Regions from separate parts of the Homo sapiens genome. Here all the other regions are reported to be linked to region 1. The links are microRNA targets in miRTarBase. Many come from high-throughput screens and were not tested one by one. Region 1 holds a microRNA gene; each other region holds the end of a gene's coding sequence.

Evidence for each region. The annotated mature microRNA hsa-miR-7843-5p reads GAGGGCAGAGCCAGCUUCCUGA and lies in region 1 at 3,948-3,969, shown strand. An mRNA with a match to its seed (bases 2 to 7 or 8) in the 3' UTR can be bound and repressed. Matches are read on the target gene's strand: a 7mer-m8 pairs with bases 2 to 8, a 7mer-A1 pairs with bases 2 to 7 and ends in A, and an 8mer does both.
Region 2: miRTarBase lists SLC25A22 as a target of hsa-miR-7843-5p. Seed matches in the 3' UTR shown: 7mer-m8 at 6,104-6,110, 7mer-m8 at 5,831-5,837 and 7mer-m8 at 5,427-5,433.
Region 3: miRTarBase lists IQSEC1 as a target of hsa-miR-7843-5p. Seed matches in the 3' UTR shown: 7mer-A1 at 2,088-2,094 and 7mer-m8 at 5,201-5,207.
Region 4: the mRNA of ARL6IP1 is a reported target of hsa-miR-7843-5p. Seed matches in the 3' UTR shown: 7mer-m8 at 945-951.

Annotation. Positions count from the first base shown.
Region 1 is chr14:72,512,884-72,520,520 of GRCh38, forward strand. MIR7843 (microRNA 7843) reads left to right here and starts at 3,937; the gene lies at 3,937-4,015. It overlaps RGS6 (regulator of G protein signaling 6), which reads left to right. Exons shown (of 18, transcript NM_001204424.2): 15 at 5,468-5,654. RefSeq lists enhancers at 1,284-1,353, 1,888-2,388, 6,066-6,135, 6,606-6,755, 6,846-6,935.
Region 2 is chr11:785,544-793,180 of GRCh38, forward strand. SLC25A22 (solute carrier family 25 member 22) reads right to left here. Exons shown (of 10, transcript NM_001191061.2): 6 at 7,327-7,445; 7 at 7,010-7,184; 8 at 6,761-6,915; 9 at 6,599-6,674; 10 at 4,932-6,525. The coding sequence ends at 6,372. CEND1 (cell cycle exit and neuronal differentiation 1) reads right to left here and starts at 4,547. Exons shown (of 2, transcript NM_016564.4): 1 at 4,487-4,547; 2 at 1,572-3,115. The coding sequence starts at 3,033. The coding sequence ends at 2,584. RefSeq lists a silencer at 4,458-4,687.
Region 3 is chr3:12,895,109-12,902,745 of GRCh38, reverse strand. IQSEC1 (IQ motif and Sec7 domain ArfGEF 1) reads left to right here. Exons shown (of 14, transcript NM_001134382.3): 14 at 1,224-5,703. The coding sequence ends at 1,763. All of the region lies in intron 4 of LOC105376956 (a long non-coding RNA gene), which reads right to left. Among named protein-coding and RNA genes, the nearest start is that of LINC02022, 14 kb to the right of the region's middle.
Region 4 is chr16:18,786,445-18,794,081 of GRCh38, reverse strand. ARL6IP1 (ARL6 interacting reticulophagy regulator 1) reads left to right here. Exons shown (of 6, transcript NM_015161.3): 6 at 712-2,413. The coding sequence ends at 830. RPS15A (ribosomal protein S15a) reads left to right here and starts at 3,748. Exons shown (of 5, transcript NM_001019.5): 1 at 3,748-3,838; 2 at 4,964-5,101; 3 at 5,940-6,019. The coding sequence starts at 4,969. RefSeq lists enhancers at 3,511-4,140, 4,078-4,795.

The sequences.
Region 1 (7,637 bases):
CTGAGTAAATATCAGGGTGGCCAGGCATGGCTATACAGATGCACCTCCACTGTGGCTCATGCCATGGAGGCCCCTGGGAGTTGTGCAATATGGCACAACTTGAGGATCCTGCCAACCTGTCATGTTGGCCGTGCTGGAGTCGTCCCTTCTCCGCAGGATTGGTGAGGGGCCCAGGCCACTGGCATTGGAGCATGGCAGGAAAAAGCCTGACCAGAACTCACCTGGGTAAATTACAAAGTGCTTCTCCACTTCCTCTGTCCTCCTGTGCTCCCTCTCATCTCTCCAGTGAAAGGGCTGCTTAGATCATAACATTCTTGCACAACCCACGGGGTGCCAGTTAAGTAGCCAAGTGGCTGAATTTCTATCAGAGCTTCAGAATGCGGAATGGAGGAGCCCCAAAGTGTCACCCTGGATCCTTTAAGGAACAATTTCTATGATGATGTAATAGAAGTTGACATCCCCTTTGATCAGTGTCTTCTGGGTGGGTCTGTGAGATGAGGGTGGGGGCATCATCTCTGTGGACTGGGTGGGGTATGACCAGCAGCGCATTTTGCTGAAGCTGTGAGCTCTCTGTGGCAGGGTCTACCTCTTTTTCTCCTTTTCTGACCCACCTGAGCTGGGTGCAGGCTCCCTTTGCACCGAGTGGACCCACAGACAGCTGTTTGTTGAGTGCCTTGGGAATGCTCATGGCTTCTGTCCACAAGGCAGGGGCCTCACAGCTCTGATGCAGGGAGCTCCGCTCAGTTTCTTGGCCTCATCCTTCTTCCTGCTTTGTGCATTTTCCCAGAATAATGACAGTCACTCCTTCCCATCTTTGCTCCCTCTCCCACATCTCCCCTACACAAATCTTTGTCCTCCCTGGCTTGACACCCTCTGCTGCACAGCAGAGAATGAGTTAAAAATCAAAACCCACAGCAAAGAGTGTCCCCCGTACATTTTTTGTGAGCTGTAACATCTCCTGAGAGAAGGTAGTTGTTCTTCTAACCTGCAGATTGATGATCCGAGTTCCACACAGTGTCGGCTGAAGGGAGAAGCAATTAAAAGAGAACACAGTGGGGCACCAGGTTCATCTCGAGAGCTCTTGTCTCTGGCAGTTGCCCTGAGTCCAAGGAAGACCTCAGAAGGTTCACTAGGCCCAGCAGGATCCACCACTTACCAAACCCATGATTAATAGGAACAGAGGTGACTCCCACGACACCACAACCATCTGCAGTGTTTCAGTCACTGCCCAGTGAACAGAACTCAGCTTCAGTGGTGCTGGGGGTGGTTACTAACGTAGGCACCCCGGAATTTTAGCCCCACCGGGAACTAAACCAAGTTTAAGCTCTGCTGCCTACGTCTCTGGTTGACCAGCAGAGGGCATAGAAACACTTTCTTCTCTCCTGGAGTTTGCTTTTTCTCTGGGAGCGAACCAAAAGCTGTATTTTCTAACCCATGAAAATTCTAGTTTATGAAAAGATATGTAAACTGGTGACTGAGGGCCTGCCCAGACCTCCTGGTAGGATGGAGAATGATCAAGGGCCAAATGGTTTGTCTTACCCAGCCAGCCTTGAGAAAATCCTCTTCCTTGAAAGCCTCTAGGGAGAAAGGAGGCTCCCACTGGGGCAGCCCCTGGATGGTCCTCCAGCCCTGTTCTCCACTGCTTCGCCCCAGTGGTATCTGAGCCCAGGCTGCCTCGCTCCAAAAGCTAGTTTCCCCGCCAGCATTTCTAAGTCATGAACACGGATCAAATGCCCGCACAGGGGCTGCCTCCCTACTGCAGCTATGACAATTGGCAGAGACCAGGGGCAGGTCAGGACAGGTGGTCTCCCAGATATTAGTCCTTGTGGCCTGCCAGTCACAACGGCCCTTCTGCTGCAAGCCATGGAGGCTCAGTGCAGGATGGATGGATTTGATGCAGCTGCTGGCATTTCACTCCCTGCCGCTGCCCTTGGGGAGGAGCGGTACCTGCAGGTTTTTTATAAGAGCAGAAGCTTCCAAAGCTTCAAGGGGCTTCCCATGGGCAGCAGATGTGCAGAGAGGAGCTGCTGTGGCTCTCTGCAGCGGGGAATGTGGCCTGGGCTCTGAGTTCCCAGCTCAGGCCTGTGGGGCTCGAAGATGGCCAACACTAACCAAAGCCTGTTCTGAATTTCAAATTGACACAAAGGTTCCTCAAAACCAGTGATGGTAAACACATACGGGATGTCAGGATGCTGCTGTGACAGCAGTTTTGCTGTTGCCTGAGAGAGACAAGGCAGGTCAACTCCAAGGCAGACAGAAGGCCAGGGAGAGTCCCCAGTGTGTGCAGGGAGAGAAAACTGCTGTCTAGGGAATGTTACCCCATACCTTCCCCCTCTCCCTTCTTGCCCTTTCCCCCTCCTTCCCTCCCTTTCTCTCCCCTCCCCTTCCTCTTCCTCCAGCATGCCTGTTGTTTTCACTTGTACTTAAAAAAATTCTTGGTTTTATGTGACAAAGAAAACCTTTTTATTTTTACATAAAAGTTTATTAAATTTGATTCCGCGGCCTGGTGCAATGGCTCACGCCTGTCATCCCAGCACTTTGGGAGGCCAAGGCGGGCGGATCACTTGAGGCCAGGAGTTCAAGACCAGCCTGGCCAACATGGTGAAACCCCATCTCTGCTAAAAATGCAAAAATTAGCTGAGCATGGTGACATGCCCCTGTAATTCCAGCTACTCAGGAGGCTGAGGCAGGAGAATAGCTTGAACCTGAGAGGCGGAGGTTGCAGTGAGCCGAGATGTAGCCACTGCACTCCAGTTTGGGTGACAGATCATGACCCTGTCTCAAAAAAATTGATTATGAAATTTGTATTTCCATCAGCTCCGGTCATCTCTATATCCAGCTGAGTGATGTACATTTTCATGTGGCACCCAAATCATCCTGCAAAAAGGACCCTGAGCCCTCAGGAACCGCAGGGAGCCTGCAGAGCTCCCAGGGTCCTCAGGGCCTTCCCACAGGGGCTCAGCAGCTCCTCCTCAGTGCTGACAGAGGTGACAGAAAGTGACCTCCCATGTGGCATTGATTGAGGGGGCAGGAAATCACCCAGGTGTCATCCATTTGTGTGAGAAGTTGCAGGGGCCCAGGGGGCGTGGGAAGACGCTGACCCAGAAGGTTGCTTCCAGCCAGGGATTCAGCCCAGACGGCCTCCCTCTGTGAACCTGGTTCTCCTGTCTGCCTAGCATGGGGCTGAGGAAGCCTCACTGACTTCGTCTCTGGACATTTGACCCCTTCTGGGCCTTGGAAAAGCCAACACTGGCTTCTTCCTATAGAGCCAGGTTCCCCGCATCTTTCACCTACTGGTCAGACATGGCCTTCCAGGCAGAGAAAGCCTTGTAGGTACTCTCACCAGCAGATGGCCATTTTCACTTGGCAAGCCTCCCGGCCACTTCCTTCTTTTCACAGCAGACCTGAGAGAGTGGACAGAGAGCCCTACAGAACCTAGGGCAGGCCTGGGAGATGGAGGAGACCCATGCCCCAGCTCAAGAGTCAAGGGCCCACCTGAACAATGAGGTAGGGGAACAGCTCCTTTCAAGCCCTTCCTTCCCCACCCTCTCTGGACTCTGGATAAAGAAACACGACTGCTTTCCTCTCACCCAGAAGCCAGAAGGACCTGAGCACCCAGGACTTGTGGCTGTCAGAGAGCTGTGGAAGGGCAGGGGACACCAGATGGCAGCAGCAAGAGCTGGGCGGCAGCATCTGCCCAGGCCACCTGCGGAGAGAAGGCTGGAATCCGAGGGATCACACTGGGCCAGCATTGAGCCTGTGGCCACCACACTGACCCCTCCTCAGCTCCCCCTCACAGGACCTGAAAGCATTTCTGAGTTAAGTCTGCATAGGAAGTTTTCCAGAGCCATGCCACATATCCCTCCATCCACTCAGTGCCCATTTTACAGATGAAGAGAGAGGCACCCAGAAAGGTACACCAAGGCAAGATATGGCGTAGACAGGATGAGGGCAGAGCCAGCTTCCTGATCTGATGGAAGTCATGAAGCCTTCTCTGCCTTACGCTTGGCTCTGCAGGGTCGCTGAGAGGTTCCTTTAAGGAGATCATCAGAATCCTAAATGGCAAAAAATGGCAAATCAGGGGAAGAGTTGGAGCCCAGCATTTGGGGACACACACACACACACACAGTCGTCTTGCCTTGCAGAAATTGGGTTGCATTACTCCAGTCTGCCACTGAGTGGCACCTTTGGGCCATGCACTTGGCTCCAAAGACATTTCTCTGAACAGCAACAGAAAAACATGTTTAACCCTAAAAAAAAAAAAAAAAGAAACAAGTACATCTTACTTTGGATGAAATTTGATGACAGATTGAATGCACTGTCTGCACTTTCCACCACGTCATGTTTCAGCTTCGCTTGTCCCTCCCTTTCTGTTGACTAGACTACCTGTGATTCCCGCTGCTCTCGGAACCAGCACAGGACCTACTCTCTTACTCACTGATGGGGGAGCTGGCCTGTCCATGCACAGGGCAAAGGATATGACACCCAGACCTGGATCCTGCTGCAAGGCTGCCTTGGGAACCATCCTTAAGACCCGGTAGCTGTTGTCCAAGCTTTGGCTCTGGCTGCTGCTGCTCTCAGCAGAAAAGAGCTCACTGCTCCCATGCGGATGCTGAGGGATTAAACAGAGGCAAATACGGAAGTGAGCAGATTTTTCTCTCTTGCTCTCAGCAGAAGGAGAACCATTCTGCAGAGAAGTTTTCAACATATGCCTCTTCAGCATTGCTCCAGATGCGTCCGTCTTCACTCTGAAACCCATATATTGAGCACCTACTATTTGCCAAGCACCGTGCTGAGCACTGATGTGAATTGGCTCAGTTTCTCCATCTATAATAGGAATGGCTGGTTCATTCTTACACAGATAGTCTTTATGATTCCAGGACACTGCCTGCTTCTGGGATCTCTCCTCCATTTTGATGCCATCACTTGATCCCAACTAGATTTGACAAAGGGTCTCACACTGTCTGCATGGTGGCATGTATGTAGCACTGGGGTTCTCAACCAGGAATGAGTTCATCTCCCAGGGGACATTGGGCAATGTTTGGAAACATTTTTAGTTGTCATAACTTGGGAAGGGGGGTTGCTATTGGCATCTAGTGGGTAGAGGCCAAGGTTGCTGCTAAACATCCTACATTTCACAGAATAGCCTCAACAACAAAGAATTATCCAGCCTGAAGTGGCAATAGTGCTGAGGTTGAGAAACCTTCATGTAGAAGGAGAGAAATCCCGTTCTGATAACGAGAAGCACATTGATCTTTTAATATGCAATTCTTTTCTGTTCTGCACCATAGGAACACCTTTGATGTTTTCACAATCTCCATGGTCTTTGCAGCTCATGTAGTGGCATCAGGGCAGGCTGAGAGATGCAGCAGAATGGGTTTCATGGGACATCAGCTCTGGGGCCATCTCAGGCAACATCCCGATGCTGAGCCCCCTGGAACTGACTGTGTTTCTGCTCCCACTTCAGGTTCTGGCTGGCTGTCCAAGATCTTAAGAAACAACCCCTACAGGATGTGGCCAAGAGGGTAGAAGAAATCTGGCAAGAGTTTCTGGCTCCAGGGGCTCCAAGTGCAATCAACCTGGATTCTCACAGCTATGAGATAACCAGTCAAAATGTCAAAGATGGAGGGAGATATACATTTGAAGACGCCCAGGTTTGCTTATCTACTCAAGTGGTTGTCATAAGGTGTTCATTTGTCCCCTTCATTGCCTGACCTATTAACACAAGTTCAAGGCATTGTGGGTAGTTAAAATTTCAGATTTGGTTATTTTTAAGTTCATCAGTGGAAACCATTTCAGATAGGCGCACAGCAAAATCCCAGGATCGTTTTCCTAGATGGGTTATGTATTACATAGAAACCAAAATGTGCAGTTATATGCTTTATTTGTTCCAGGAAAGCCTCAAAGTGTTTTACAAAATCTGAAGGCTTGTAATAAGTCAGTGATAGAATCTGGAAACCAGAACACAGCATTGGGGAAGTGGGTGTAGTGAGTTAGCAGGGCCATGAGTCAAACCCACATCTGTCTACCTCTGAAGCCCACACTGATAACCACCTCTCTACACTGCTTCCGCAGTGATCTCCAGCTCTGCAGTGAATATTTTTTAAGCACATCTATATTCCAGGCTCTGCGCTATGTGATAAGATACCACAAAGAACAGGCAAAACCCCTGTTCTCACCGAGGTTGAGTGGGAGACAGACAAGTAAATGGGCAACTTCAACAGTGTGAAAAGTGCCCCAAATGGGTGAACCCTAGGTTAAAGCAAGCCTGCAGGAGGGACTCCCAACCCTGTAGGACACAATTAAGATGCTCACAGATGCTAGTGATGCTGGCTAAAGAAACAGGAACCACCCTAACCAGCAGACTAAATTTTGACGGCTGGGAGGTGCCATTTCTAAAAATAAGCATTGGGTTGGTTTCTTACTTCCTGGCCCCTAATTTCTATTTCCTGTCACCATCCCACACCCAGTGACAGGGCTTAAGATTTTGCTTATCTCCTTGACCCCACTTACTTCTCTCACCTCTGGGGCCCCCAGTAGAGAATTTGGGTGGTTTGCCCCTTGCAGACATTATTATCTGATTTAGGAAACTCAGTGTAGCTGCACCAATGCAAATAATGGCATGAGAACAGTGTCCCTTATCATCCAGAATTACCTTGTCATTTGCTCAGAACTTCAAGATGGAAACACCTACCAACCTCAACACCATAACTATCTACTTCTCTCCCCCTGGTCACGAGCTCCATCAAATGCCTGTGCCAATCACGAAATCATGACTCCTTCATATACCCCTTGCAGCTTCAAAGCAGAATGTTTGAGTCATGAGAGCTCTTTGCTGAGATATTTTTGCTTATGTGTATGTACGTATGCTTTCAAGCACCATATTGACATGGCCAGAGAGGAGAGTGACAGGGGAGTTCCGTGGGGGTTCCCTGCATGAACAAGCTGAAGCTCAAACTCCAATATTTATGAAACACAAGAAGAGGGATACTGGTCAAAACCTTGATGCATCTAGCACAGTATTAACACTCCAAGCATGACATCAGGAGGGATTTATTTTAATTTTTTATTATGAAAACTTTTAACACTTGGAAAAGTGGAAACAGCAAAACAGCAAACATTTATAGACCCTCATCCAGCCTCAAAAATCATCAGTACACGTCTGATCTTGCTTTATCTCTAGCCCCATCTACTTTTTCACCTGCCACCAGGTTACTTTACAACAAATCCAAGATGTTGCATCATTTCATCTGTAAACTTAGATATGTATCTCTAAAAAAAAGATCCTTTTGTTTTAATATTGCCACAATATCCTTTATCTCCCTCCCTTCCTCACATCCCCTTGCAATTTATTTGATGAAGGATTTAGATCCTTTGTCCTGTAAAGAGTTCCAAGCTCTGGATTTTTCTGATTGCAGCCCTGTGGTGCTATTTAGCATGTTCTTCTATCATCTCTCTTTCCTATAAATTCGTTTTATAAGATATTTAATCAGATTTAGGTTTGATTTTTATGGACAAAACCACTTCATGGATTGTGTGGTGCTCTCCTATCAGAAGGCACATGTCTAGCCACCTCTCTTTTTGACCTTTTTGCAGATATTGATGTCTATCGCTTATATCCATTAGTTAATTAGAGG
Region 2 (7,637 bases), not on the chromosome of region 1:
AGCTTCCTGAGTAGCTGGGATTACAGGCGCCTGCCACCAGGCCCAGCTAATTTTTGTATTTTTAGTAGAGACAGGGTTTCACCATGTTGGTCAGGCTGGTCTCGAACTCCTGACCTCGTGATTCGCCCGCCTTGGCCTTCCAAAGTGCTGGGATTACAGGCATGAGCCACTGCACCTAGCTATATTTTTATTGTACAGACAGAGGTCTCACTGTGTTGGCCAGGCTGGTCTCAAACTCCTGAGCTCAAGCCATCTATCACCTCGGCCTTCCAAAGTGCTGGGATTACAGGTGTGAGCCACCGTGCCCAGCCTACAAGGATTTTCATTCCTGCTTTGTCTGAAGTTGAAAAAGTTTTGGAAAATCTAAGCATCGTTTAATAGAGAATCGCTAAGTAAAATGAGGCAGCATCGTGGGTGGAATATCAGCACCAAAGCGCCAAGCCTTGTGGTTAAAGGTGGCAGACCATCTTCAGTCTTCTTAGCCCCTTTCAAGTCCCCTACTATATCAGAAAGGGTTGGCTGGTTGCTTTTAAAGCACGAGCCGCAGAATGGAGAGAATGGGCGACTGGAAGGCAGGCTGAGGATGGTGAGGGGCCCTGCTGGCCAGTCAGAGAGGTATCCTGGCACCTGTGGGGCAGGTGAGCTGGGAGCTGGAGGTGTGAGCAGTGTCTGCACAGAGCCTTCTCTGTACGCTGGGCTCAGATCAACGGGCTCAAGGGATAGGCTGCCTCCTTGACTTCTAGGAGGCAGCAGCATGAGTGGGAGTCGAGGGAGGCTGTCGCAGGGCGGCCTGGGTGGGAGCAACAGTGTCGGTTTTAGCTGGTTCTACCCCGTGGGACCTCCGTATCTGTCTGGGCCTGGGTGTGGGTGCATGAACGAGGACTGCTGCTCTGGGGAGGGAGTGTGCCAGGTGCCAGAAGGGCAGGAGGAAGACATGGCTGTCCCCCCACACCAGCTGGAAGAAGGCTTGGGGGAGGAGGTGGTCAGGGAGCTCTTGTCTGCTGGCCTCAGCCACCTGTCGGGTGAGACCCAGAGCCAGGAAGACAGAGCTCAAAGGAGCCCTTCCCAGGCACCGCAGGCCTTGCTGCTTGTTGGCCCGCATGCTGCAGCCCCACCCGTGGCCAGGCCCACCAGCAGGCCCGCCGGTTGGACACCTGGTCAGAGTGGGCTGGGGTCCATGGATGAGAGGTGTTGAGGGGAGCCTCTTCTGCACTCAGGATGTGGGGCTCGCTGCAGTGGGGGCTGCGGAAGGGCCCCTGCCTGGCTGGAGAGCTCAGCCTGAGAAGCAGGGCTTGCCCTCCCCGCACCCCATGTCCTCACTGCTTCCTGGTCCTGTAGCCCCTGGGTGTCCATCTTGGGTCAGGACCCACAGGAAGGCCAGGGAGGAGGATGGAGCAGGGCCTGGGTGGCGATCCGGGCCGAGGCCCCTGGAATAAGGGCATAGGAGTGACAGGGGGTCCCGTCAGAGGGTCCTGGATGCAGCATCCCTCCCTGGAAAGCCTGGGGTGTGGGCGTGACACATGCGACCCTGCGTCTCCCAGCCACATGCAGATGAGGATGCAAGAGCAGCCTTCAGACGACAGAGTTTATTTCAGACTCAGCCTCCACTCAGGCCCGGGGTTCCTGTGGCCACTGGCCAGTGAGGGCAGGCCACGTTCTCACAGTGCCCACCACCACCTTCTGGGAGTTCGCCTGCTGCTGCGCGCCAAGGGCCACGCTGGGACTGGATGTGCTAAGGAGGGGCTGCACGAGGGGCTTCCCCAGGTGCAGTGGGCTGAGGACAGTGTGTGACGGTCGCCGCCAAAAGCAGTTCTACTCTACCTGTTATTGCATTATACGCTGGTTAGACTCAGGTGGTGCTGGGTGCAAGCTGGAGGGGCAGTCTAGCGGGGCAGGGCGGGCACAGCTGTGAGGGGCCCTCGACATCCCTGCCTCCCCGCCGGCGTCGGGGCTCCCCTGGAGCACAAGCTGGGGAAGGCGACCCTTGGGCAGCACCCCCTCCACACGCAGGCTTCAGGGCTCCGTCTTCCCACCCAGCTAGGCTTGGGTGGTGTGGGGAGGTGGCATTGAGGCTCTGCTGAGGTGAGTGCCCACCCCAGGTCCGTCCCACTGCATTCGCCCAGGCAGACCCCCGGGGGGTACGCAAAGAGCAGAAATGGGGCGAGTGGAGCCACCGCGCCCTTTAATGTCCCCACGAGGGCCGGGCCCAGGCCCAACCCATCCCGGCACCCCCACCTGCACTCAGACCAGCCCTGGGGGCCCAGGATCACCCAGCCGCCAGGGGTGGGGGGGGCCACACACAGGGTCCATTCCTTTCTTGCCGTTCCCCAGCTGTGCCCTCGCCCCACATCCTGTGCTGTGGACCCCGGAGCCTGGGCTCTTTCTGCCCTGGAGGTTGGGGAAGTCCTGGGTCAGCAGGGGTGGGCTCGGGCGTCCTCTTCACCGTGCGCGTGTGTTGGGGGCGTATGTAGGTGTGTAATGAATGTGCGTGTGTACGAATAGGTAAGGGTGAACTCTGCATGCACTGGCTTCCTCGGGTCTGTACAGGAAGTGGCTCCGTGCCCCCCGCCTGGCCCCCAGGTATTATTTTTTCCGGACCAGGAAGGCCACACCGAGAATCAGGGCTATGGCTGCCACGGCCACACCCCCAGCCACCAGCAGGGGGTTGAAGTTCTCACAGGACCAGGGACCTCGGCCCCCAGGCCCCCCACTGGCAGCCTCATCTTCCTCCGCCCCGTCCCCAGGACCCTTGGGCTCCGGGGTTGCATCGGGACTGCTGGGGACCGTGGGGGCTGGCTTCAGGTTGCTGTGGTTGTTGAGAAGGGCAGGGTCGGCCTTGGCCGAGGTCTTCTTGGCAGGTGCCGTGGTGGGGGCTGCTGGCGGCTGCTGCTTCTCGGCCGGGGCCTCCTTCTTCGAGGGCTTGGTCAAGGGGGCTTTCCCATCGGCTGCCGGGGGTACCTTGGCCTCGGTGGTGACCTGGGGCACCTTGGTGTCGGGCTTGGGGCTGCTGGCTGACTTCCCTCTGGACTCCATGGTGGGCGGGGCGTATGGGACAGGCAGGTGGCTGCACCAGAGGGGCTCAGGACAGTTTGTCGCCCCTGGGCATTCTATGGGCCTGGAGGGAGACACAAGGGAGGCTGCGCGCGGGTCCAGTCCCCCCTGTGCTGCCCCGACCACCTGGTCCCCAGGCAGCCCCTGCCCAGTTCTCTGGACTCTCTGGAGCCCCAGCTCAGGGGCCTCCCGTGGGCCTCTGACACTTCTCTTTCACGGCCTGGACTCCATCTGTCCATGACCACTCCTCAAGGGGCCCCTCCAGCCGCAGAGGCAAGGGCCACGCACAGGTGGGAGGAGGTAGGGGACCCCACTGTGCTCCATAAAATGGCCCATGCAAATGCCACATCCTCCCACCAGCCGGGGGCAGGAGGCTCTTGGTGGGGAAGTAAGGATCAGGCCCAGAGAACTCGAAGGAAGAGCATTCTCCCCTCCAAGGAGGTGATCGGAGCCCCAGTGGGAGAGCTGACTGCATCCCCTCCTCAGGAGAGCATTCCTGCTTTGCAGAGATGGACACTAAAGCACGGAGGCTGTGACCTGGCCAGGGTCCCAGGGGGAGGAGGGCGGGGAGGGGCAGGAGCTGGGATCTCAGGCAGCCATCAGGGTGGGTGGGCCCACAAGAACCCAGACTTGAGAAAACTGGGGTGTCTCTCCAGGAAGTCAGCGTGGGGCTGTGCTTCCAAGGGCCGTCTGCCCCTCCCCAGCCTCTGGGGCCCCCTCCTCAGCATGGGCCGTGCCTGCCTCCAGCCCTGGAGCAGGGAGTCCTCGCCCAGCCCAAGGCTGTGCTGTCTCTGTGGGCAGAGGGTTCCTGGCGTTAAACAGGGTGGGCACATGCTGCACTTGGCCCGCGGGTCAGGGCGGAGGACAGGGTTCTGGGCTGTGGGAAAGGCGGTGCCCAGATTCTCAATGACCGAGGCAGAGGTGGGAAGGGCCCTGGGGGCCCAGCCGCCCTGAACCTGAGTGGGTCTTGCCCCAAAGCCCCAGAGGCCGCCTGTCTGCCTCTCCCAGGGAAGGATGAGAAATGCCCTCCAGACCTGCAGAGAAAGGGAGGCACGTTCCCCACCCCCCGCCAGGTGCATTGACCACACTGAAGGTCACCCGAAGGTCACAGCATGATGAGGGCGTCTCCAGAAGAGGCCCAGCTGCTGCCACCTCCCAGGGAAGCCCAGCCGTCCCTTCACCCCTGCAGTTCTCGGGGGGCTCAGCTGCTGGGCATCAAGTTTGCAAAGAGCAGGTGGTCTGCCCCCCCAACCTCGCTATTTGTGGCACTTACATCCCGGCCGCCGCCTCCCTCTCCCGGGATCAACTGAGCCCTGGAGAACTGGGGGGCCCGCGCGCAAACCCAGTGACCTTCAAGGCCCGGAGCCGCCTCCTCGCCCCGCAGGACGCCGCGCCCGCCCCGCCCGCCCCGCCCGCCGGGAGCCCCCCGCCTTACGCGTCCTCCGGCCTCCCCGGGGCTGCGCGCTCCTCCGCGGGATGACGGCGGCTGCGAACGCGGAGGAGAGCTCGGGAGTTTCCCACAATGCACTGCTCCCGGCGCAGGAGGGCGGGGAGGGGGAGGGGCGACCGGGCCCCGCCCCGCCGGGAACCGTGGGATCCGCAAACCCAGCTCCGCCTTAGATCCAGGGGTAGAAACTTAGGGTCCGAGAGAGCAACTGCGGGGTCCAAGTCCCATCTGGGACTGCCAGAGGCAGGAGGCGGGTCCCGCTCAGCATCCCCTCTAGGCCAGGGTGCCCCTTGGTCGGTGGGTGACGGGTCGGTGGGTGAGGGGTCGGTGGGTGGGTGCGCAGGCCTAGCCCTGCAGTCTGAAGGGAGCCAGTTATGGGAAGAGGGGACTGCCCTCCCCCGCCCCCAAACAGACCCCCAGACAGACAGCAGCATCTACTTAGAATATTTATTTATTCTCTGACATGACAAGACACAAAAAGTTACAACTTCTTAAAACTCTTCAAAAGAAAAAAATATAATTCTGTAAGCAGCAGCAGCAGCTTCCAAGGTTCTGATGTGACGGGAGGGGCAGCTCCCAGGAGCAACCGTGAACTGGGGGGGTCCAGGCCTGAGCCCCAGGTAGTGTCGCTGGGAAGGGGCCTCTGTGGAGGGCCCCGGTTTTGGGGACACAGCACCAGCACATCAGGGTCTGTCACCAACACGATCACATGGCCAGGGCGGGGCAGGGAGAGCTTCGGCTCACAGCAGGGATCGCCCGGTGGCAGGGGGGATGGGGCTTCTGAAGTGTGGTCAGGGGCCTTATGCCCGGAGGCGGGAAGGATGGGGCTTCTGCAGTGTACCCAGGGGCCTTATGCAGAGGCTGAAAAAGGAGGGTGGGCCCTGAGAGGACTTGGGGGTGTGGCAGCTCCTGGCCCTCCCTCCAGAGCAGGGCAGGCACCCTCAGGCTCCACACTGGTCCCAATGCCCGCCCTGCTCCCTGGCCAATCCCAGGCCAGGGTGGAGGACTCAGGAGAGACCAAGCTGGGTAAGTTAGTTCCTGGACGGGGTCAACAGAGCCTGGGGCACACACAGCACACAGAGCGCCTGGCCACGGCGGGAAGGGGGGCAGTCCCCAGCAGCCCCATCCCCAAGGGCCAGGCCAGATCCCCACAACACACACACGCATGCACACACACATACACACACACATGCACACAGACCTCACAATCTGGGCCCCAGCCTGGGGTGGGAGCTGAGGAGCCCACCAGAAAGTCCCACAGTGGGTGGCGGGCTTGCCCCAAGAGTCAGACCTCAGGGCAACCCCTCACTTGGGATTCCTGGCTCAACAGAGAGGGCAGGAGACCCCAGTCCTCTTGCAAGGCTGGCCAGGGAGGCAGAGTCAAGTCCTGCCAAGGCGACAAGAGCGGCTGGGGAAGGACGGAAGGGCTGGAGAGCCGCTTGGGTCCAGCAGATTCAATAAATAGGTTTGTGTGGGGTGCCTGTGTGGGCCAGGATGGCTGTGGAGACTGGAGCTGGTGGACTGGGGGTATGGTCCAGCCTGCCCGGCCCAGGCCCGGGGGCCCCCAGCCCAGAGACCAGCTCTGTCCCTGGGGGTGTTCAGGCCAGGGCAGGATTGGGGCAGGGGCTAGCTTGAGGAATGTAAAGATTTCTGCATTTTCTACATAAATGAGACATTGATCCCAACGGTGCAGGCAGCACCCCGGGGGGCTTGCGTGTGCACCACCTATGTGGACCCTGCACCCTGCCCCCTGCTGCCCCTGCCGACGGGAGGGCTGGGGAGGGGTCTTCCCTTGCTCCGTCCTGGGCTAGCTGCCTGGCTCCAGCCCCACACCGGCCCTGCCCAGCTGGCTGGGGTGGAGCGGGTGCTGGGCTCAGGCCTGGGGGTCCTGCAGCAGCCCCAGCAGGGACTCCGCGATGCCCAGGAAGTAGACCACCTGTGCGATGCCGAAAAGGGGCGCGATGACCAGCGCGCGGCAGTAGGCGCCCTTCAGGAAGGCCGAGGGGCCCTCGTGCCGCAGGATCTTCCTGTGGAGGAAGGACGAAAGGGTCAGCCCGGTACGCAGGCCCCCAGGCCCCACCCGCCGTGGGACCTCCCCACCTGGCACAGTCCAGGATCCCAGAGTAGGTGTCCTCGTTGACGCCTCGCTGAAGTGACTGGAGCCGCGTCTTCACCACTGCAAGGGGCGCTCGGGTCAGTGTGAGCCTGGCCAAGGGCTCAGTCCCGCCCCATCCCCAGCCGGGCGCCATCCCATGCACTGACCATCACAGGGGTTGACGGCCACAGCGGCGGCACTCCCAGCCACACAGCCGGCCAGGAAGGACACGTAGAAAGGCGACTTCTCCTCGGACGCCGGGCGGCCCAGCTGGTTCAGGTTGGCAAAGAGCGGGAAGTACACCACAGAGAAGGGGACATCCCTGTGGGGAGGGAGGTGGCCGTGGGGACAGGAGGTGGTGGGGTGGGCAGGCCGGCCTCCCCCTTCCCTCCCCCCACCTGCCCTGTGCCTCCTACCTGAGCAGCGTGGCCCCGAGTCCCTTGTAGAGACCGGCAATGCCACGGCTCCGCAGCAGGTCGCGGGTCAGCTGGGTGGCCGTGGGCCGAGGGGCAGCTGGAGCCTCCACTGAGGGCTGGGCACCCCCCTGGGCCGAGAGCTGGCCCTGGGCAGCCAGGATCTTCCTCTGGGCGGCTGGGGACAAAGAGGCTGCTGTCTCCTCTTCTGTGCGAACTGGGCAGGGGACACGCTCTGGCCCTCCCTGCGTCCCCACCCTCCCCTCGCCCTCACCTCTTCCCGCACCTCTGCCCTCTCCTCCCCCTCCCCCCGCCCTCACCAATGCGCCCTGCATCCTGCAGCTGGATCTTCAGCATCTCCATGGGCGTGGTCACGATCACCTGGCAGGTGCCAGCCCCACAGCCCGCCAGCATCTCTTTAAGCAGGGTCAGCTTCTGCCTGTGGTAGGGGCGGGGCCGCAGTAAGTGGGAAGAGACAGGTCTACCTGCCACCCTCGGGGCTGCCCACCATGCCTGGGCGCAGAGGATGGTGGGAGCCGTGGAGGCAGATGCAGGCCTGTGGGGGTACAGCCCCCAGCCTCCGCCACTGCAGCAGCAGGCAGGGAGGAGACCGATGGACAGACGGCCCCAC
Region 3 (7,637 bases), not on the chromosome of region 1:
GGCTGTCCTGTGTCGCCTTCCCCAGTCCTCAGTTCATATCTGTTGTCCTGGTTTTTTTTTTTTTTTTTTTTTTTTGGTTTTTTTTTTGTTGTTTTTTTTTTTGGCTTTTCCTTCCCCTACTGCACAGAGATGCAGACACCCACTCCCTGCCCCTGCCTGCCTGGAACCCTGTGCATGTCAGCTTCTCCTCTGTGCCTAGAAATATCCATGCCTCTCACCGCTTGTTTTGGACTCAACAGTGGGGGTGGTTCTGGATTTTGTGTTTTGGTTTCTGCTTAACCCCATCACCTGTGGTCCCTGAGCATGGTTGACCATCCCCAGCTTCCGGCACCCCCGCCCGGGCCACCCGGCTCCCACTCACCCTCCACACTTGCTGTTGGATGTTTTTGCTGAACCCTTGACTTCCACGCCCGCCCATCCTCATCGCTTTCTTCTTGGAGTTTGATTGCTGTGTGTCTGCGGCAGGACACCATGGAATTGCTTAGCTTGTGGGAGGAGGAGTGTCTTGAGAGAAAGAGATTCAGTGTGGATTTCATGATATTTCACTCATCCTCCGGCCATCTCTGTATTACTGTTCACATCTCTACCTCAGCTTGCAGATCTTTTTCTGTTACCTTCTTTTTCCTTGTTTGGTTTGTAGTAGGCAGCTGTAGTGAAATGCCTAGGCAGCCCATTCTCCCAGAGGACAAGGTTTCTGAGCCCCACCTGTCCCTGTCACCACCTCCCCCGAGACCTCAGGACCCACATGGGCGGAGCACATGCCCTCAGCCCAGTTGAGCAGTCCCAGGAGAGCTGAGGGCCCTGTTTTCAGCAGGAGCAGGGCTCCTCCTCCAGGCACATCAGCCCCTCTGCACTCGCCACACACAGCGCACAGACACCCCAACCTAGGGGTTCCAATTTGAAATCTCAGGCTGCTGCCAGGGCCAAAGTGCTTGTCAGAATGAGACCAGAAGTCCTACTTCTGCCGTGGTGGTCAGAGAGATGGGCCCCTCCCCTGCCCTCACTCCCCACTTTGGTCAAGGCCAGTAACCCCCAGCTGCCCTGCACTGTAGTGAGAGGAGGCGGGGCCCAGTCCAGCCTCACTGAGCCCCACCCTCTGGCCAGTGAGTTGAACTAAAGCTTAGCAGTCAGTGGGTGAATTTTTACATTTGAAAAAAAAAAATCATTCTGACCTAAGTGCTTGAAGATCTTTTAATTTTGATTTCTATGAATTTCCTTTTTAGGGGTCCATCATTAGCAGTCCTCACATGCGCCGGAGAGCTACATCAACACGAGAGTGTCCATCTCGCCCACACCAGACTATGCCCAACTCATCTTCCCTCCTGGGCTCCTTATTCGGGAGCAAGAGAGGGAAGCCCCCTCCCCAGGCCCACCTGCCCTCAGCCCCAGCCCTGCCACCCCCCCACCCACCGGTGGTCCTGCCTCACTTGCAGCACTCTGTGGCTGGCCACCACCTGGGGCCCCCAGAGGGGCTGCCGCAGGCCGCCATGCACGGGCATCACACCCAGTACTGCCACATGCAGAACCCTCCCCCGTACCACCATCACCACCACCACCACCCACCCCAGCACATCCAGCACGCACACCAGTACCACCACGGCCCCCATGGGGGCCACCCAGCCTACGGGGCCCATGCCCACGGCCACCCGCCGCTGCCCTCGGCCCACGTGGGGCACACAGTGCACCACCATGGGCAGCCCCCTGCCCCGCCGCCCCCCACCAGCAGCAAGGCCAAACCCAGCGGCATCAGCACAATTGTGTAGACAGCCTGGGTAGGGGTCCCAGGCTCCCTGAAACACCTGCACACCACACAGGGCACGCCCGGGGGTCGCCAGCCGCACACCAAACCCGGGGCACTTCTGTTGCCATCTCTCCCCTCTGCCCCTCACGGCCCAACCGGAGCCCCAGGAGCCCACAGGGCTGGTGTTGTGTGGAACAAAGGCCCAGATTTCATTTCTTGTTGGCACCCTGGGCTCTGCTCACCTCAGTCTGAGGGATGGGTGGGCCTCAGACACCATCAGCCTTGAAACGGTGAGCCAGCCAAGTAGTGTTGAACTGCCTCCCCCACTCCAGCTCTCAGCTCCCTGTGCCCTAATGTACATGCATATGAAAACCCAACCTAGAAAACGAAGAAATGAGATACAAAAACAGACAAAACAAACCCCAAAACTTGCTGCATTATTGCTCTTTTATTGACAATGGGCAAAAAAATAAGTAGACCTGATATGGTTGATGAAAATACGTAAGTAAACTTTATATAAATATATAAATATATAAATATATATATATATATACTGTATAGGTAGTACTTGTGTGTGAAAGGCAGGCGTTTCAGTCCACATTAGCAATACCCACCTTACAAGGAGCTCCACTTACCTAATAGGAAGACAGTACCTTAGCTGGGTGTGTGAGACAATAGACCAAACCCTAAATGCTAGGAACAAATTCAGATACTTCATATTTTCATACAAAGAAGTCCCTCTAGGACTGGCTAAAATCTTTACACAATCATTACTAACTGTGCCAAGTAACATAGCATCTAACTGTTTAAAAAGTCCAGTATTGCTTTGTATAAATCCTTATTTTATTAACAGAATACTATCATAAATAGTATTATAATGCTGTTATTTCAGGTAAGCAAATAGCTAAACTGCAGTACACTCTACAGTAGCAACTCAGGACAGCTGGTTACAAGCTGGTTGTCTTAGGACATTGGTTACACGGATTCTTAGACACTTTAATGGCTGCGATAACTGTGACTCTCCATGATCCATGTTTCTTTTATGCGCATATGATTTGACGCACACTCATTCAGAGTCCTCCGAGAGGGGCACCCATACACGGCAGAAGTGTTCATCTCCAACATGAAAGTGACCAGCTCTCATCCTCGTCTCCCCAACACCATAACGTCCTCATCCCGCCTCCAACCCACACCAGGCCGAAGCCCTCAGAGAGTGTTTTCATCAGGAACCACTCTCGAACCTGAAGGTTGACTTTAGCGTTTAGCAACCCAGGGCGGTGTGTGTGTTTCCCGTTTTGTTTTCTGAGTGGTAGCAGTGATCACCGTAATTCCATGTAGCCATGTGCTAGCAGAACCCCTGTGTCCTCACCGTGGCCCGTGTGACCCCAGCCGACGAGTGCCCGGCGGAGCCCCCGCTGCCTTCCCATGGTCCAGTGAGCTGCCAGGGCATCACATGACTCTCAGCTGTGCTCTTGTCGCTTCTGTGTTGTGGTGACACCATGCGCTCCCCAGGGCCAGACCTGCACGCGGCAGGTCTGTGCCCGAGTCACCCACGGGCCATACTTTGTAGTTTCAGCCTTTCGAGCCACTGCAGCCGTCAGTGCTGTGCTCCTAAGCCATGGGACCCGAGGACTGCCCCCCGGCGCCTGCCCAGGCGGAGGCCCTTTCAGAAAGGGCGAAGCTCACGCCTGACTCTGCGGGCCGCGGGGCCGCGTTCCCAGTGGACAGCGTGGTGAGCCGTGGCCGGACGGCAGGAGGAGAGGGGAGCCCCCTCTGGCTGTGTGTCACCTTGGCTGGCTGGCTGGCCAGGGTTTTGCCGATTTCCCTCCTCACATCCCTCCCACCCTCGGTCATATCATTGAGATCACCGTACCAGCAAATCTGCAAACCAAGCACTTTGTTAATCTCCAGAGAGAGCAAATACAGCAATCTAGAGTTTAGCCTTTTTAAAAATGTGACTTTAACCCGCCCACCTGTGTCCTCCCATTGGCGTGGCATTTCTTTGGTGTCTGCTCAGAAAGAAACAGCATGGGACCGTGTGATTGGGTCCAGGCTGGGCTGTCAGGGAAGCGCCCTGGTGTCTCCGACTCATCAATTCTCGGGTCTTTTTTAAAAGCCAGGCTCCCCAAAGCACTCTGTCTCGCAATTTTGAGGAGGCTGTTCCGACCTGGAAGCGTTAAACTGCTGCATGTCATCTGGCGTCAGCTGTGAGGCTGCGCTCTGCGTGTTGTGCGTTTGCAAAATGTATTGGCGTGACTGTAAACACATCGTTGAAGTAAAGCGATTACATATTGAGTATGTCAGCTTTTCTCACCCTCTTCTGTGCTGGGAGGAGAGTCTAACTGTAACCTTTAGGTTGTTCCAGAAAAGATTCAGGCCGTTTGGCACAGAATTGCTCTTTCTGAAGGGTAGCAGTAATGAATAGGAACAGACAGAAAACCCCAGGAGGGGCTTTCAGGAAACTCTCCCTCTCCATCGCCATCCTGCAAGCTCCACAGCCTCGGGCTGCCAGCCTGTGGCACTGTCCTCGGTGTGTCCTGGAGCTGTGCTGGGCAGCAGGGCCTCGCGTAAGGAACTGCTGGAACCCACTGAGCCCTTCCCGGGGTTTCCCGCCGCACTCAGTGTGTTCCTTCAGGCTAGTGAGGTTTCATTCTGTTTTATTTGCAAGCTTATCAAAAGTTTGTGGAAGATACATTGTTGGGTTCCAGAGGCTGGAGTCATGCTGCCCACATCTTGTTTGGGAAAGCAAAAGCTCCCAGTGAGCTGGTGTCCCCGTGTGTCTTTCATGGGACTGTCCCCTTTAGAGATCCCACCTGTCAGAGCCACAGCTTCGGGGTCCTGTCATCACATCCCCTGGGAGGGGAGGCAGGAGGAGGCCGAGGGCCCCAGGATGTCTGCCTGGTCCCTTCTCACTGTGAGGACGCCCTTGGCACACCTTTCTCAAGTCACACAAATTACTGCAGTTACATACAGAATTGCTGACAGGAGCAGGAGACGCTGAGGGAAACAGCTGGCAATGTGACAAAAGTCTTTTCTGGGACAACAATCAAATCATGTATTTGTATTTTTTTAAGTTTACCAATGAATTGTACAACAATGTAAAAATAAAGTTCATCCTAATATGCTGTGCACATCTTGCTTAAAAATGTCTTCAGCACCCAGTGCAGTGATCTTTCCCTCACACACTGCATGCAGCAGGAGCCTCTTGTTTTTCTTAATGAGCTGAAAAGACAGCAGATGTTCACAGCTGATGCTGGGTGTTGACTCAGCGCCACGGGAAGCTCTGTGCCCGCAGGTAAGCACGCACAGTCTTACAGTTCTCCTTGTAAAATATCATCACCCTTCCTGCCTGAGAAACGAGTACATTTGTATTTTATGTAACAACAATAGTCAAGGCAGCATTGCAACACTGAGCAGGGTGAGGTGGGGGTGCTGAGCACAGGACAAGAGGGAGGAGGCCTGCCCTCCATTCAGATGCATCTGCATCGCCCTTCTGTGTGCAGTCACATCGAGACTGCACACAGCATGCATCTCCTCTTGGAAAATATCTTTTGCCTCCGAGTTGTTTTAAGCAATTAGAATCAGGTCCTGAATCCCCAGACTGTTCAGAGACTTCAAGGGACACCTCCCTCACAAGAAGCCTGGCACCCCCACTGTGTACCTTTGAGAGGAAAGGAGTGCGTTTGTTTTCATCTGCATTCTGTTTGTCAGTGGCAACAGACTCTATCAATGTAAAACCATGGTTGTGATCATGTGGGGAAATCAAATAAATCCTTTGAAACTCTCGGATTCTCACTTTTTCTGAAAAGTCCAGAAGTTGCCCTGTTGGCCAGACCCAGATCTCCAGCTGATGAGTTTCCCCATTACTTGTTGTGACTCTGGGCACTCACTTTCCTTGAAGACATTGGACTGACTGAGGACACTGATACAAAATTTAAAATAAAGGGACACATCACAACCAATAGAAGGTTTCAAAGGTATTTATAATTTCTAGCAACTTTCAACAAGTGATGGTCCTTTCATGGAGTTAGAGGGGATGAATTCTATTAAGCGTTGAGGTACACTGATTATGACTTAGGGAAAAAAATACCCAGTGGCCCAGTCCCCAGTAAAGATGGATGATGACAGGAGTTCAGAGCAGCCTGCGTTTCCATGTTGGCTCATATCATGTACAAAAGCCAAGATGGTAAAGTCATTCTCCTGGAAGGAAGGGGCCTGTGAGGATGTAATTGGCTTCTGCGATTTCTCCTTTCCTGGCCAAACATAATTCCTGAGAACACCACTTTAAACTTTCAGTGCATGGGATAAAAGGAACTGGCAGATCTAACTAGTGGAAAACCAAACAAAAAAAAGTTAATTTTGGTGACCAAAATGAACTCTGGCCCTCCCTCCGTACAGCACATTCTGATTGAAAGATGTTCTCACAGGGGCCCCCTCTTCCAGTCTCATTCATAGCCACTACTGGCTCATCTAGACTGAAACCAGGAAACCAGCCATTTCAGTGCACACACACAAGTGCCTTGCACAATGCCTGTTTCTGCAACTGGGCGTCCATCCCTTTTACAGACTATTCAGGGGCCCTTCAAGAGAAGCTGGGTACAAAAATTCCCTGAAATACCCGGTTCTGCCTCAGGGTTTGATTTTTACTACGCAGATCTACAGCCCAGGAGCTGCTGGAGGTAGGTGAGCTAGGCCAGGGCTCCGAGGCGGTGATCTTCTGGGGATTGTGTTTGTCTCCCCCTGCCCTGAGATTGTGAGCTGCATGATCCGCCTGTGTGTGTCCAGTGACAGCCCCAGGACTGGGCTTGTCGGCATGCATCTATCTGAAAATTAATGGATGGCTGGAAGAGGCAGGGGTTCAGGTCACACCACCAGCAGCAGCTGGTGTTTGAGAATACCGATCACTGACATAATTAAAAAACGTATGGAAACCGGTTTGCTCATCCCCCCCACTTCCCTTAACACTTAAGTCTGGCTGGGAGACACCTGACTCAGACCTTGAGATCATGGTTCTTCCTCCTCCCTGGCTGCATGTGACTTCTGTGCCACCGAATCCCAGGAACATGTTTAGCTTCCCTGACCCCTCGGCAGCTGTGACTGTTCGTGCCTGCCTCCTTGAAATGCTGGTTCCCGGGCACCTCTGGGCCATGTGCCCTTTCTGCTCTCTGGAGACTCCTTCAGTCTCCTGTGCAGGCCAGTCCTCCTCCACGGAGCTCGTGTGTGGCTTAGGTCAAGTCCAAGCCCTCTTCCTCCCTTTCCCCTCTCCTGAGGCACCCTCACACAAGCCCACGGTTTCAGTCCACCTTCTCCATGCCCCTGGCTTCCACATGTCATCTCCAGCCCAGACCTCTACTCTGGGCACCCATGTCCCCTTGGTGTTTCTGACAGCCCAGCCCTGCAAGCCCTCCATGACCATGTTCTTCACCGTATAGCCCCATGCAGCGGAAACCCGGTCCTCTCCTCTGTTCCCTGTCCTGGTGAATGACATCACCATTGACCTATTTAAACCAGGACCTGGGGTTGCTCGTGACTTTCTCCCTGGTGTCCTGTCCGTCTTTCCCCGAACTCTTGATTTGTGCCTCCTGCTTCTTCTGGAATCCATCTGAGTCTCTTCACGTCTCACCCCACTGCAGGCCCTCATGTCTCTCTCCTCGACTAGAGCTCCCTGCCTTGGCACTGGCCTTCCTGGGGGGACCCCTGTCTATTCCCCACACGGGTCTTGCTCTGTTGGCAAAGCTGGAGTGTGGTGGGGCAATCACGGCTCACTGCAGCCCTGACCACCTGTGATCCTCCCCCCTCAGCCTCCTGAGTAGCTGTGACTACAGAGGCGTACCACCATACCTGACTATAGTGTTTTTTGTTGTAGAGACGGGGTCTATGTTGCCCAGGCTGATCT
Region 4 (7,637 bases), not on the chromosome of region 1:
TACCTAGGAGGCTGAGGCATGAGAATCACCTGAACCCAGGAGGTGGAGGTTACAGTGAGCTGAGATCACACCACTGCACTCACCACCCCCCCCACCCACCACCGCCATACACACGTAATAACCTCTGATCACCTGAGGTCAGGAGTTGGAGACCGCCTGGCCAACATTGCGAAATCACATGTGTACTAAAAATACAAAAATTAGCCAGGCGTGGCGGCAGGCACCTGTAATCCCAGCTACTCTACTTGGTAGGGTGAGGCAGGAGAATCGCTTGAACCTGGGAGGTGGAGGTTGCAGTGAACCGAGATTGTGCCATTGCACTCCAGCCTGGGCAAAAAGAGTGAGACTTGTCGCTGGGTGTGGTGGCTCACGCCCGTAATCCCAGCACTCTGGGAGGCTGAAGCAGGCGGATCACCTGAGATTGGGAGTTCGAGACCAGCCTGACTAACATGGAGAAACCCCATCTCTACTAAAAATACAAAATTAGTCAGGCGTAGTGGCGCATGCCTGTAATCCCAGCTACTTGGGTAGCTGAGGCAGGAGAATCGCTTGAACCTGGGAGGCGGAGGTTGCGGTGAGCCAAGATTGCGCCATTGCACTCCAGCCTGGGCAACAAAAGTGAAACTTTGTCTCAAAAAAAAAAAAAAAAAGTAATAACCTTTAGCAGGTTAATTGCTGCCTCCTTAATGTTGGGTTTTTTTTTATTTTAAGTGACTTCCTTACTATTGCTTCCTGGACTAAACCAACATGGAATCATTTTGAAGTACATTGGAATGGCCAAGAGGGAGATAAACAAACTTCTCAAACAAAAAGAAAAGAAAAACGAATGATTCATCTGCTTTAATCAGTGTGATTAATGCAGCACCCATTGCCCCGGGAACCGTTTCTGCTGTACTATCTGGATACTAAAATGTTACGGAAGTAGCTCTTTGTTCTCCCTCACTCTGCCCTTAGTTAATAGAAATTCAGACTCGCCAAGTAAGGCTTCGTGCATAGTGTCTTCATGTCGCGTATAGTTGAGCGCGTTCTTAGCAGTTGGCTTCATGGACAACTCATTAGTGTTTTGACTTTTCTTACCCAGCGTTAATTGAATTCTTGCTTTTAGACAACTTCCTTTTTGTAGTGGTGAACCTTGCCCTTTAGTACAGTTCAAGTGAATCTGGATAATTGTTCATCTTTGCTTTAGCTTAGATACCATGTAGTGGTCTGTGGCTACAGGAAGCTGGTTCTGTCTGCTTCCACAGTCTGCTTAAAAAACTGTCTGACTTCGTGAATATAGAGACCAAGTTTACCACTTCTGATGAAGAGACCAATTAAGATTCATTCCTCATTCTGTTTCTTTCCAGTGGGAGAAGAGTCCCCATGAAATAAGATGAAACTGATTCCATGCACTAGTACATGTAGGCTTCTCCCTTGTGCAAAGCTTAGCAATTTGTAGGAAACTTTGATCTTTTTGTCCAAGAAAAGGAATGTCTGACAGGCTTAAGCTTTCGTCCCCTTGCACTTAGACTCGAAGTTAGTAAATCCTTAAAGGCTTTTTAATAGCAGACTTCCAAAAGATTGCATTTAGGATTTCTAGCATGCTTTTAATTTCAGATTTTCAGCTGACATTAGCTATAGTATACAGTAGGTTAAGACTCATGTCTATGACTTTCACTCTAAGACTGGCAAAAGGACAGCAGTCTTCTATGTTTAGTCAATATTCATTTCAGTAGAAGATAATCTTATCTAATTTTTGAGACCAGAATAAGCCTTTTAAGGTAAACCTCAAAATTATCATTTTATGGTAATACTGACCATTTTAGTCCCCTAGGTTTGACATGGGAGATAGTGACTACACTGGTGTCTGACTTTTTTCCTAGAGATTTCTCCCTGAAAAATACAAGGGCTGTTGGTGAGAGCAGACTTGAGGTGATGATAGTTGGCCTCTGGTCTACAAAGATTTCATAACTCCTTGGAAAGCTTCTTATAATCATTCTTAACTTCTTGGTAGCTAGAAATTTAGAGTAGTTGAAATCTTTAGGAATGAACTTCTGAGGGCCAAAAAATGTGACTGACGGGAACAATTCTTAAACTGATTAACTAGCTGTAATATAGTTTTGTGAATTTATTGCACTGATGTTGTACCTTGTGGTATATCTGTCCCTATTAAATAAGTGTTGTTTTCTCCTCTTTAATATTGCTGTGAACAGTGGTGCCCATTGTAGCATATGTTTGATTTTTTTTTATTATTTCATAAGAAAACTACGTTAATTTTACCTTACTTTCATTGTAAATAAGCCTGTCTTCCTATCTGGATTTTTTGTGTGCATACATATTCTACTGATTAACTACTTTTGCAGTTTTAATCCTGTATTATTTCTTCTACTTTGTTTTGTGTAAAAGGGGAAAAAATAAAAAAAGCTGGAATCTTCATGTCTCACTTTCTTTATAACTTAGCCAATATAATATTTATGATTGGATTTATGAATCTGATTAATGAAGTACCCTGTGTGGTCCTTAGATGTCTATAAGGTACCCTACCTGTAATCCCACCACTTTGGGAGACCTGGGCAGGAGGTTCACTGGAGTCCATGAGTTTGAGGTTGCATTGAGCTGAGTGTACCCCTGCACTCTAGCCTGGGCAACAGAGCAGGACCCTGTCTAGGAAAAATTTTAAAAAAGAACAAAAATAAAAGGTTTAAGTTTTATTTAGCAAATATCCAGGTACCATGCTAGAGGGAAGAGGAAATGCAACGAATGAGCAGGGGCATTGACGTGTGAGAGAGGACGAAGCTGGAAGAACCGGCAGGGACAGAACTGGCTAAATGGTGCCTGTGTGGGCACCTCGTACCCCAGGGCCTTGCTAGCGTCTGGTACATGGGTGCTCAGTAAACAACTGTTGGGTGACTTTTGTCTGAACTTAACTTTTTAATTAAAAAAAAATTTTTAGCCGGGTGTGGTGGCTCACGCCTGTAATCCCAACACTTTGGGAGGCCGAGGTGGGCAGATCACTTGATGTCAGGGGTTTGAGACGAGCCTGGCCAACATGGTGAAACCCCGTCTCTACTAAAAATACAAAAATTAGCCGGGTGTGATGGCGGGCGCCTGTAATCCCAGGTACTCTGGAGGCTGGGGCAGGAGAACCGCTTGAACCCGGGAGGCGGAGGCTGCAGTGCGCCAAGATCGCGCCACTGGACTCCAGCCTGGGCGACAGAGCGAGACTCCTTATCAAAAGTAAACTAAAATAAAAATTAAGGCCCGCGCGGTGGCTCCCGCCTGTAATCCCAGCACTTTCGGAGGCCGAGGCGGGCGGATCGCAAGGTCAGGAGATCAAGAACATCTTCGCCAACTTGGGGAAACCTCGTCTCTACTAAAAATACAAAAATTAGCCGGGCGTGGTGGCGCATCTCTGTAGTTCCAGCTACTCAGGAGGCTGAGGCAGGAGAATCACTTGAACCCGGGAGGCGCAGGTTGCAGTGAGCCGAGATCACGCCACTGCACTCCAGTCTGGGCTACAAGAGCGAAACTGTCTCAAAAAAAAAAAAAAAATGTAGACGAACCTCCAACGAACGGCTCACCTTGCCTCTCCCAGGCCCCACCGGGGGAGGTCGATTCCATCGACTCTCAACTGCCAACCCCTGAGGAGGCTCCGCCTTTCCCTCACCCTCGTCCTTCTCCTAGGCGGTCCTTGTTTTTGCCGGGCCTTTGAAAGTCTCGCGATAGCTCTCCCGCTTCCCATAACTCCGTGCGCTCTCCCCTCCCGTCCTCTTTCCGCCATCTTTCCGCGCCGGTGAGTAGCACTCTCTGAGAGCTCCAATTTCATCCGTCTGCCATCGGCGCCATCCTGCAATCTAAGGTTCGGTCTCGGTGTCCTGCGAGGAGGCTGGTCCCCACCTTGGCCGAGGATCCTGGCCTTGCCGGTTCCTGGACAGGCATAGAGGAGAGCCATGGCTGGGCGCCCCAGACTGTGCACTCAGGGGATCCCGGTCCGTGGGGTGCAGGCCGCAGCGCGGGCGGGAGCCGGAGCCTTCGACTGCCCAGCTAGGCGGTAGCTCCGGTTCGGGCCGCAGCGTCTGGATCTCCCTTTAGTGCTGAGGCAGCGCCTTGGCCCCGGGCGGCGGGCAACATCGGGGCTGGTGGGCCGTGCAGCTTCTCACTGCTGCGGCCGCGCTGGGAGCTTGGGAGGCTGAGGCCACCCAGCAGGTAAAAGCTGCATCGTGCCGGGGTTGGCAGTTTGCTGGGTGCCAACTTGGATCTTCTGGGCCGCAGAGTTTTTCTTTAGACACTTTTGAACTTAAGGAATTTAAGTTCTACTCTTTACTATTGGCACTTTGGTCTTTCAAAACTTCAGTGTAGTGTGCGGTTCTTGCCCATTAGAAGAGAGTCCAGTCTGACAAGCATGTAAAATGTTTCTGTTTGCCACTGTGGCTCTTGCTGTTGGACGCAATTTTAAATGGCACGAAGATGGATGTTTAATAGTTAGATGTGTTCATTGTAGGTGAGAGTGAACTGATTTAAAGTACAATGTTAATAGTATGGAATCTGCTGATTTTCAGCAATTTGGAAAATGTTGCCGATGATACTCTGCTTCTGTTCTGAATCACTGATCGACTATACCCGATGTTTTCCTTCCGGTAGCTGGCAGTTTCTGCCAGTTCTCACGTTGTCTTGTGTCAAGTGGATTTTGTCCCACATTTTATTATCTCCAGACGTTGGTGTGTGGCACGATTCGAAGAAGAGTGGTTAGTGAATGAATGAGTTTCAAAATGTGCAGGCTGACGTCCCGATAACCTGTTTTCAACAACCGTAGTAAATAGGAATTTTCCTGGGTGGTGGGAAATGGAGAAGCAGCCTGCTTAGACTTGAGAAAACTTCGCCAAGGTGGGGCCAGAAAGGAAAGGATACTTCCGCAGTGTAATGGTTGGTGTCTGTTGATGTTGGCAATGCCAGTAAAACCTCCTGTTTTGTCTTCCTTGAACAGCCACAATGGTGCGCATGAATGTCCTGGCAGATGCTCTCAAGAGTATCAACAATGCCGAAAAGAGAGGCAAACGCCAGGTGCTTATTAGGCCGTGCTCCAAAGTCATCGTCCGGTTTCTCACTGTGATGATGAAGCATGGTAAGTCTGCTGCCGCTGTGTTTTATGTTTTCATGTGAGACTCTCTAAGAAATCAGTCCTGTAGAAATTAATTATGGGGGACCAAAGTATGTCTGTCATACCTGAGAACGAATGCAATTGACCTGTGGGCTGTGGAGGAGGGGATAGTCTGAAACTGCTGAAGAGTCACTTAGAGTAGGACTGCTGGAAAAAGGAGCTCTGCTAGGTGTTTGGGAGCTAAATGAATCTAAGTCATTGAAAGGACTCCTGAGCTCATTTCGAGACCAGCCTGGCCAACATGGCAAAACCCCGTCTCTACTAAAAAAACAAAAAACAAAAACAAAAATCAGCCGGTCGTGGTGGCAGGCGCCTGTAGTCCCAGCTCTTTGGAGGCTGAGGCAGGGAGAATTGTTTGAACCCAGCAGGTGGAGGTTGCAGTGAGCCGAGATCGGCCACTGCACTCCAGCCTGGGCGACAGTGCAAGACTCCATCTCAAAAAAAAAAAAAAGAAAGAAAGGACTCTTGAGATCTTCTCAGAGCTCTTTGAGAGGAAAGATTGGATTATTGCACTTCTTTGGCACAAAGTAGTCTTTGGGAATGGGAAGCAGTGAAGGAAGGGTCAAGGGGAAAATAGTTTCTTTCAGAATTGCAAGGTGGATTGTTTTGGGTATTGTCTCCCAATTCTTATATGTTAGGTTGTAAAAATTAGTTCTGATACAGAGCAACTGTCTTCCCCCCAACTTTTTGGAGAAGCAGTCACTGAGGTGATGGGAGAGTGAAGAATTGAGTAGGCTAGAGCACAGAGGTTTAGCTCTCAAGTTGATGTCTTTTATTTAATCCAGTCAGTTATCTTTTGTAGGTTACATTGGCGAATTTGAAATCATTGATGACCACAGAGCTGGGAAAATTGTTGTGAACCTCACAGGCAGGCTAAACAAGGTAAGAACGAGTGATCTACACATTTCAAAGCTTTAAGAATTTTTTACTGTGGCGTTAAATGTTGTAATTGCCTTTGGAAATACTGAGTAGTGGTGCCATACTTGATTTATCCAGTTACTTTAAAAAGGTTTAAAAATTGACACATGGAACTTCATTTGCTCTCCTGGGTTGATTGTGCTAGGATTATGTCAGTTGACCTAGTGTTTTTATGGGGTATAAGCTGTCTCAGGAGAGATGGGGGGTGAAACCAACGCTGGTACTGGTATTTGGATGTTAACGCTACCCACCTCACTGGCTTGAACTTGGGTGGCTCAAGGCCATTGAGCCTTTTGTCCAAGGTGCTGTGTCCTTCCTCTCAGTGATGTGTTGGGTTTTTTGAATGGAATCTTTATCTTTGAGTAAATGGGGCTTTCTAAATAGCAATATGAATACTTTTTCTGTTTTTGCTGGCATAGGTCTTTGGGGTCTATGCTGCTTTTCAGTTTGACTTGTCAACACCTTAACCAAGTAAAACTGACTTTGTGGTTTAAGTGATTGCGTGTGTTTTGGGGGCAGGTGTCTTAAGCTGGTTGAGGTGTCCACTGTGCTTCCTGTCAGGTTTGTAGCTTTCAGATTTGCAAGGAGGCAGATCCTCTAGTTCAGGCTTGTCCAACCTGCCTTATTTTGTTGTATTGTTTTAGACTTGTAGCAGCCTGAAACCATGGTACTTAGTTTCTGTCTCTAGTGATAAATGGAAAAGAGGGATGAGGAAGGGGCCTTACTGGCCCAACTAGAAACAGAAACTAAGAACCCATGACTGTATTCTCTCCCTTGGACACCCCTGTGTTTATTGCAACAGATAGGGGGGAAAGAGACCCAGAAGGTGAGTTGCTGAAGTATTTGTTAAAGATTTGAAGAACTAGCTGGGCACAGTGGGTCACGCCTGTAATCCCAGCACTTTGGGAGGCTGAGGCAGGCGGATCACGAGGTCAGGAGTTTGAGACAAGCCTGGCCAACATGGTGAAACCCTGTCTCTACTAAAAATAGAAAAACTAGCCAGGCGCAGTGGCGGGCGCTTGTAATCCCAGGTACTCCGGAGACTGAGGCAGGAGAATTGCTTGAACCTGGCAGGCGGAGGTTACAGTGAGCTGAGATCGCACCACTGCACTCCAGCCTGGGTAACAGGGCAAGACTCCCTAAGATTTGAAGAACTTGCAAGGGTAATTTTCAGTATGTCATGTTTTGTTCTAGTTGTAGCCATTAGAACCCCACCTCAAAATAGGATTGATTTATTTTTATTTATATTTCTTTTGAGATAGTCTTGCTCTGGTTGAGGCTGGAGTGCAGTGGCGCCATCTTGGCTCACTGCAGCTTCCCTAGCTCAAGCCATCCTCCCACCTCAGCCTCCTGAGTAGCTGGGGAATACAGGTGCATTCCACTGTGACTGCTGATTTTTCTTTAACTTTTTTGTAGAGGTGGGGTCTCGCTATGTTGCTTAGGTTTGTCTTGGACTCATGGGCTCAAGTGATCCTCCCACCTCAGCCTCCCAGAGTGCTGGGATTACAGGTGTGAGTCACTGGGCCCAGCCGAGAAATAAATTTGAACAGAGCATTCTGTAAATGGAACTTATTTGTGGCAC